Regions from separate parts of the Homo sapiens genome. Here region 2 is linked to region 1. Evidence: fine-mapped expression QTL. A gene starts in region 1. The other region holds a variant in brackets. All regions are shown on one strand. Distances are between the middles of the regions. Region 1 holds the start of LINC01987 (long intergenic non-protein coding RNA 1987). Region 2 holds the start of LINC00868 (long intergenic non-protein coding RNA 868).

The links. PIP is the estimated chance that this variant, and not a neighbour inherited with it, causes the effect.
Region 2: its variant is fine-mapped to the expression of LINC01987 in vagina (GTEx, PIP above 0.99).

Annotation. Positions count from the first base shown.
Region 1 is chr17:77,727,426-77,730,341 of GRCh38, forward strand. LINC01987 (long intergenic non-protein coding RNA 1987) reads right to left here and starts at 1,134. Exons shown (of 2, transcript NR_104134.1): 1 at 985-1,134.
Region 2 is chr17:76,854,391-76,857,306 of GRCh38, forward strand. LINC00868 (long intergenic non-protein coding RNA 868) reads left to right here and starts at 1,776. Exons shown (of 2, transcript NR_135284.1): 1 at 1,776-1,874. The variant A/G (reference allele first, on the strand shown) is at 1,351.

The DNA.
Region 1 (2,916 bases):
TGGCTGGGGGAGGGCAGGGAGGCCGCAACCTGCAAGAACAATGGAAAGGCCGGAGGGAAGCTGAGGGGCCAGAGAGGGACAGGAGCATGGAGGGCAGCCAGGAGCCTCTGCAACTATCTCCATCTCATGGTAAAAATCTCTAGTCAGAGTCTTCTCTGTTGTCCAGCTTCGTTTCGTGTCTCACCACTTCCTTCCACCCTTCCCAGAATCCCTTTCTCTCTCTCTCTCTCTCTCTCTCTCTCTCTCTCTCACACACACACACACACACACACACACACACACACACACACAGAAGCGTTGCTTCATGTCTTGGGGCCTGGCTTCTAGGTCCAATGTCCTGGGAAATAAGTCTCTAATTGTTTCCATGTGTCCCGCCCTGAGCTGTTTACAACAGGCATTCATAGCCCTGGACCTCGAGCCCTGGTGAGGCCACAGGGTCAGCACAGGGATGGTTCCCATTTGAAGATGACCAAACTGATGTGAAGGGCAGAGGGAGGGACCCAGGCCTCCCCCAGCCCCGAGTGTCTTCCACAGTGAGCTGGAAACCTGTTCTCAAGTCTAAATATTTTACATTTTATCTGGACTAGACTTTCCCCATTTTATTTATTTTCAAAGCATTTTCCCAGATAGTGTCTCTTGTCTATTCCCACGGCTCCGTGAGTTCAGGAGATCGACCCTGGACGGGGCTCCTGCCCACGCCTCGGACTCTGCAATCCTTGGCAGCGACAACCGGAGAGCATGGTGAGAGTGTGGTGGGGAGAATATGCCATAAAAAACAGAAGACAGAAACCAAACACATTGCCTGGGGAGCAGGAACAAACCCCGATCGTTCCCTCAACAGATGAAACATCTGAAGCCCAGAGAGCTTAGGCAGTTTTCCTGAGCATGTCTGGACACACACACACACACACACACACAGAGCTTCCATTAGCAACAGATGTCACAAAAGGACAGGCGCCACCTGACGATAATCTTTCTACTCACCACTGTCCCCTGTAGGAAGGATTCTCCAGGCTTTTCACAGTCAGGCTAGTTGTTAAAATGTTTACATTCATGGGGTGGGAGAAGACCTGGTCAGGTTTCAAGGTGCGGGCAGAGTGGGCCTACCCATCAAGAGTGGTACACAGCGTGCTGAATGAAGCCCAGCTGGGCTTAGGTTAGGGCAGGGGAAGCCCAGACCCAGCCCTCTGCCTGTTTTGTAAATGGCATCATTGGAGCACAGCCATGCCCATTTGTTTGTGTACAGTACACTGCTGCTTGCAAGCTGCAACAGCAGTGTGGCTCACAAAGCCTACAAGATTTACTATCTGTCCCTTTAAGACAAAGTTTGCTGACCCCTTGTTTAAGGGATTAATCCCAAGAATGTTCTCAGGTTCATTTTTTTTCTTTCCCATGCAACAGAGTCATATGGTCATCCAATTCCTATCTGTCAATCACTATTGTAAGGGAACCATTTATTTAAGGACAGTTGATTGAACCCCTGTTATGTGTTAAGCACCCGAACAACCCAAAACACACATAGAAGGAACACGACGTCCCTCAAGGGGCTCACAAAATCCCAAGTGATGGTAGCCAAACACAGGCACAGGGTACAACAAGGACGATGGTGACTGATCCAGCGTAGGCTGGGGCTGCAGTGGTAAAGGTGGAGAAAGGCTGGAGAAGTTAGGGACTGTTTTCTGCTGAAGGAGACAACTTACTAAGTTTTAAAGAGCCACTAGCTCATGTCAGAGAAGGATCTGAAGCCATATGATTTGGAAAGAACATGAGTGCATTCGGTTTTGGGTATGTGGAGTTTGGGGTGCTGGTGACATACCCGGGTGGAGATGATTCAAATGTTTTGTTATGTGTAGGGGTCCAGAATTCAGGAGAGAGAGAATCTGGGCTGGAGATGTAGAGTTAGGGGTATATAGTTGGTGTGGTAGGGATGCTGCCTTCTTGGTGATAAAAGCCTTAACCAAGAGGTAGAAATAATTTTCTCTTCCTGTGAGCAATTCTAACAGCTTGCCTTTACTGCTCTAAAGATATTATGGCACTTTGCATTTCAATTTGTATGTAGTTGGTATCTCTCTCCATTGAACTGTAAACAACAGAGACTTTGGCCATGATGGAGTAAGCATTTATTATTCCACCCTAAATAACTAAAAATAGACCAACTATATACAACAATTTTCAGACATTGGACCGCAGGTGTCACAGAAGTGTAATCTCTGACAGAGGAGAAGCAAATGAGGTGAGACCCACAAGTGCCCCAGCTGACAACCTGGAGAGAGTTTCCACGCCACCATACAGGTAAGTGGAAACCACACAGTGTTCAGTGGCTTCACTGAATTAAGGAGATAGTGTTTAGGGTGTGGGGAGGCCAAGGCAGCTAACATTTGTAGGGCAGAGCCCTGGAGAGGAGAGAGCTGCACACAGAAAGAGAGGACTCTAGAGATCTGCAGACGACTCACTTAAGGCCTTCGGCTGAATATTGATCAGTGCATGCATATGAGAAAATTACTAAGGCTGTGGAAAAGGAAAGTAGCAGATAGAAGAACCCCAGGAGCTCACAAAGGCTGGAGAATATCTTACATGCCCAACAGCCAGTGGAAAGACCTCCTCACCCAGGAAATACCAAGCAGAGTCCTCAGAAAGGCATTGCTTCAGAAGAGGGACTAAATTAGCCCTAGACTAAAGGTTGTTCTAAACGTGTGAAACAAAGCTTAAAAGTAATACTTGAAGAAAAATCAGATTGTTTCCAAGTAACTTAACTATGAACTAGAAAAAGAGTACGAATATATTTAAAGGAATAATTAGAGGAATTAACAATGTCTGGCATCCAATTAAAAATTAGCAGACATGCAAAGAAGCAGGAACTAGGCTCTACAGCCAGAAGAAAAGCAGTTCATAGAAACAAACCAGTAAATGACAAAG
Region 2 (2,916 bases), 870 kb before region 1:
AAACAAAACAAAATGAAAAAACCCCACAAAACTCTATACCCAACAAACCACTCTGCATTCTCTCCTCCCTCTAGCCCTTGGGAACCCTCGTTCTACTTTCTTTCTCCCTGAGTTTGACTATTTTGGAACCTCATATAAGTGGAATCCCATAGTATTTGTCTTTTTGTGCATGACTTATTTCACTCAGCATAATGTCTTCAAGGTTTGAAGGTTTGTCTATGTTGCAGCATGTGTCAGAAATTCCCTTTTTTTTTTTTGAGGCAGAGACATGGTCTCGCTCTGTCGCCCAGGCTTGAGTGCAGTGGCACAATATGGACTCAACTGCAACCTCCGCCTCCCTGGTTCAAGCAATTCTCCTGTCTCAGCCTCCTGTGTAGCTGGGACTACAGGTGCACTCCAGCACACCTGGCTAATTTTTGTATTTTTAGTACAGACAGGGTTTCACCATATTGGTCAGGCTGGTCTCGAACTACTGACCTCAGGTGATCTGCCTGCCTTGGCCTCCTAAAGTGCTAAAGTGCTGGAATTACAGGCATGAGCCACCGCACCCAGACATAAATTCCTTCCTTTTTTTTTTTTTTTTGAGATGGAGTCTCACTCTGTTGCCCAGGCTGGAATGCAGTGGTGTGATCTTGGCTTATTGCAACCTCTACCTTCTGGGTTCAAGCAATTCTCCTGCCTCAGCCTCCCGAGTAGCTGGGATTACAGGCGTGTGCCACCATGCCCAGCTAATTTTTTGTATTTTTAGTAGAGACAGGGTTTCACCATGTTAGCCAGGATGTTCTTGATCTCCTGACCTTGGGATCCACCTGCCTTGGTCTCCCAAAGTGTTGGGATTACAGGCGTGAGCCACCATGCCCGGCCAAATTCCTTCCTTTTTAAGGCTGAATAATATTCCACTGTAGGGACATACCACAGTTTGTTTATTTCTTCATTTGCTGATGGACACTTGGGTTGTTTCCCCCTTTGGCTGTTGTGAGTAACGCTGTATGAACATGGGTGAAGAGATACCTCTTTGAGACTCTAGTTGCAACTCTTTTGGGTTTATACCTAGAAGTAGAATTGCTGAATCATATGGTAATTCTATTTTAGTTTTTTTGAGAATAATTCCTTTTTAAGGCTGAATAATATTTCATCACATGGATAAATCACGTTTTGTTTATTCATGCATCCATTGATGAAAAACTTGAATTACTTCCACTTTTTGGTTAAGAGTTGTGATGCTGGCCCGGCGCGGTGGCTCATGCCTGTAATCCCAGCACTTTGGGAGGCTGAGGCGGGCGGATCACCTGAGGTCAGGACTTCAAGACCACCTGACCAACATGGAGAAACCCCGTTTCTACTAGAAAT[A/G]CAAAATTAGCCGGGCATGGTGGCACATGCCTGTAATCCCAGCTACTTGGGAGGCTGAGGCAGGAGAATCACTTGAACCCGGGAGGCAGAGGTTGCAGTGAGCAGAGATCATGCCATTGCACTCCAGCCTGGGCAAAAGAGCAAAACTCCATCTAAAAAAAAAGAAAAAAAGAGAGAGTCATGCTGCTATGAACATGCATGTACAAGCTCCTATGTGGATATGTGTTTTCATTTCTCTTGGAGATGCACTTAGCCGTGAAGTTACTTCATTTTTTGGGCCTCAGTGTTTGCCTATAAGACAGGATCAGGCTCTCACATGGTTATTTGTATGAACTGATGAGATGTTTGCCTGGTACAAGGTGGGTGTTAAAGAAATGGAAGCTAATGATAAAATGATTTTGTTTCTCTGTGCCTGAATCTCGTCCTCAGGAGCTTATAATTTAGTAGACACATAAGCCACAAACAGAAGCCAGCTCTGTGTCAGGCCCCATGAGAAGTCCGCAGGTGCGATCTTCAATTTGGAGGTGAGGAAACTGAGGCTTGGAGGGTGATTTGCCAAGGTCTGGATCGGGAAGGGGAGGCAGGACTCAAGGCCCATTGGGCTCCGGGGTCTCACAGTGAGCGAGGAAGCTGAGAAGAGCCTGGCCCATCTTGCAGGCACCGCTGTGCTTCCAGGGTTGCCCAGGCGAGACCCTCACCCCATGTGCTACCTGTCCCTGACAGGCAGGGAAAGGGGCTGGGCCGGCCCTGGGGGTGGCTGTGTGGATGAACACCTAGTGGATGATGAAATGCAGGCTGAGAAGAGTCTGAGATGAATCGGGAAGTTTCGGGAAGCTGCCCCTACGGTGATGTTCAGTGTCAGGGAGCTGCACAGAGGAGCCGGTGGAGGAACATGGAGAGTAGGAGGCGGTGTGAGGCAGACACTCTTTGCCTGGCATGGGCTGGAGGTGTGGGGTGAATGGTTCACGAGAAGAGGGGGCATGCACAGTGCAGTGGGCACAGAGGGCAAGGTGGAAGGAAACAGCCTTGGCTGACCACCATGTCGGGCTGGGCTTAGGGACTGGGGTCCTTTGAATCCCCACCGTCCCCTGCCTCGTCCCCACACTCATTCATCCATTCAGTGAAAACCCCTCTGTCAAATGCGGCTCATGTCACATGCGGCTCATGTTAGATGCTGTTTGGGACACTTGGGAGGCCTCAGTGGGCAATAGATTAAATTCCTCCTCCTAGCTTGAGGGGGTGCATGTGTCCATCCCCACCTTCTCCTCAAATCTCTCAGAGGACAAAGCAGGGGCCACGGCTCTCCCACGGCATCCTCTATACAGCCATGGAGGCTGGAGCAGAGATGGACCAACAAAGGGGTCCATCTGCCACACCCCCCATCTACTTCCCTTCTGTTGAAGATGGGAAGGTCATGGCTGTCTCAGTGTGGCAAGCTCCCACCTGGAACTGGACACCATAAAATCTTGCTAGACAGGGACGGATTTCAAGGTGGTCTTGGGAGGCACCTCCGCCACGGCCTGAGATCCTGCAGCACCCTCGCCCGGATCACAACCAGAGCAGGAG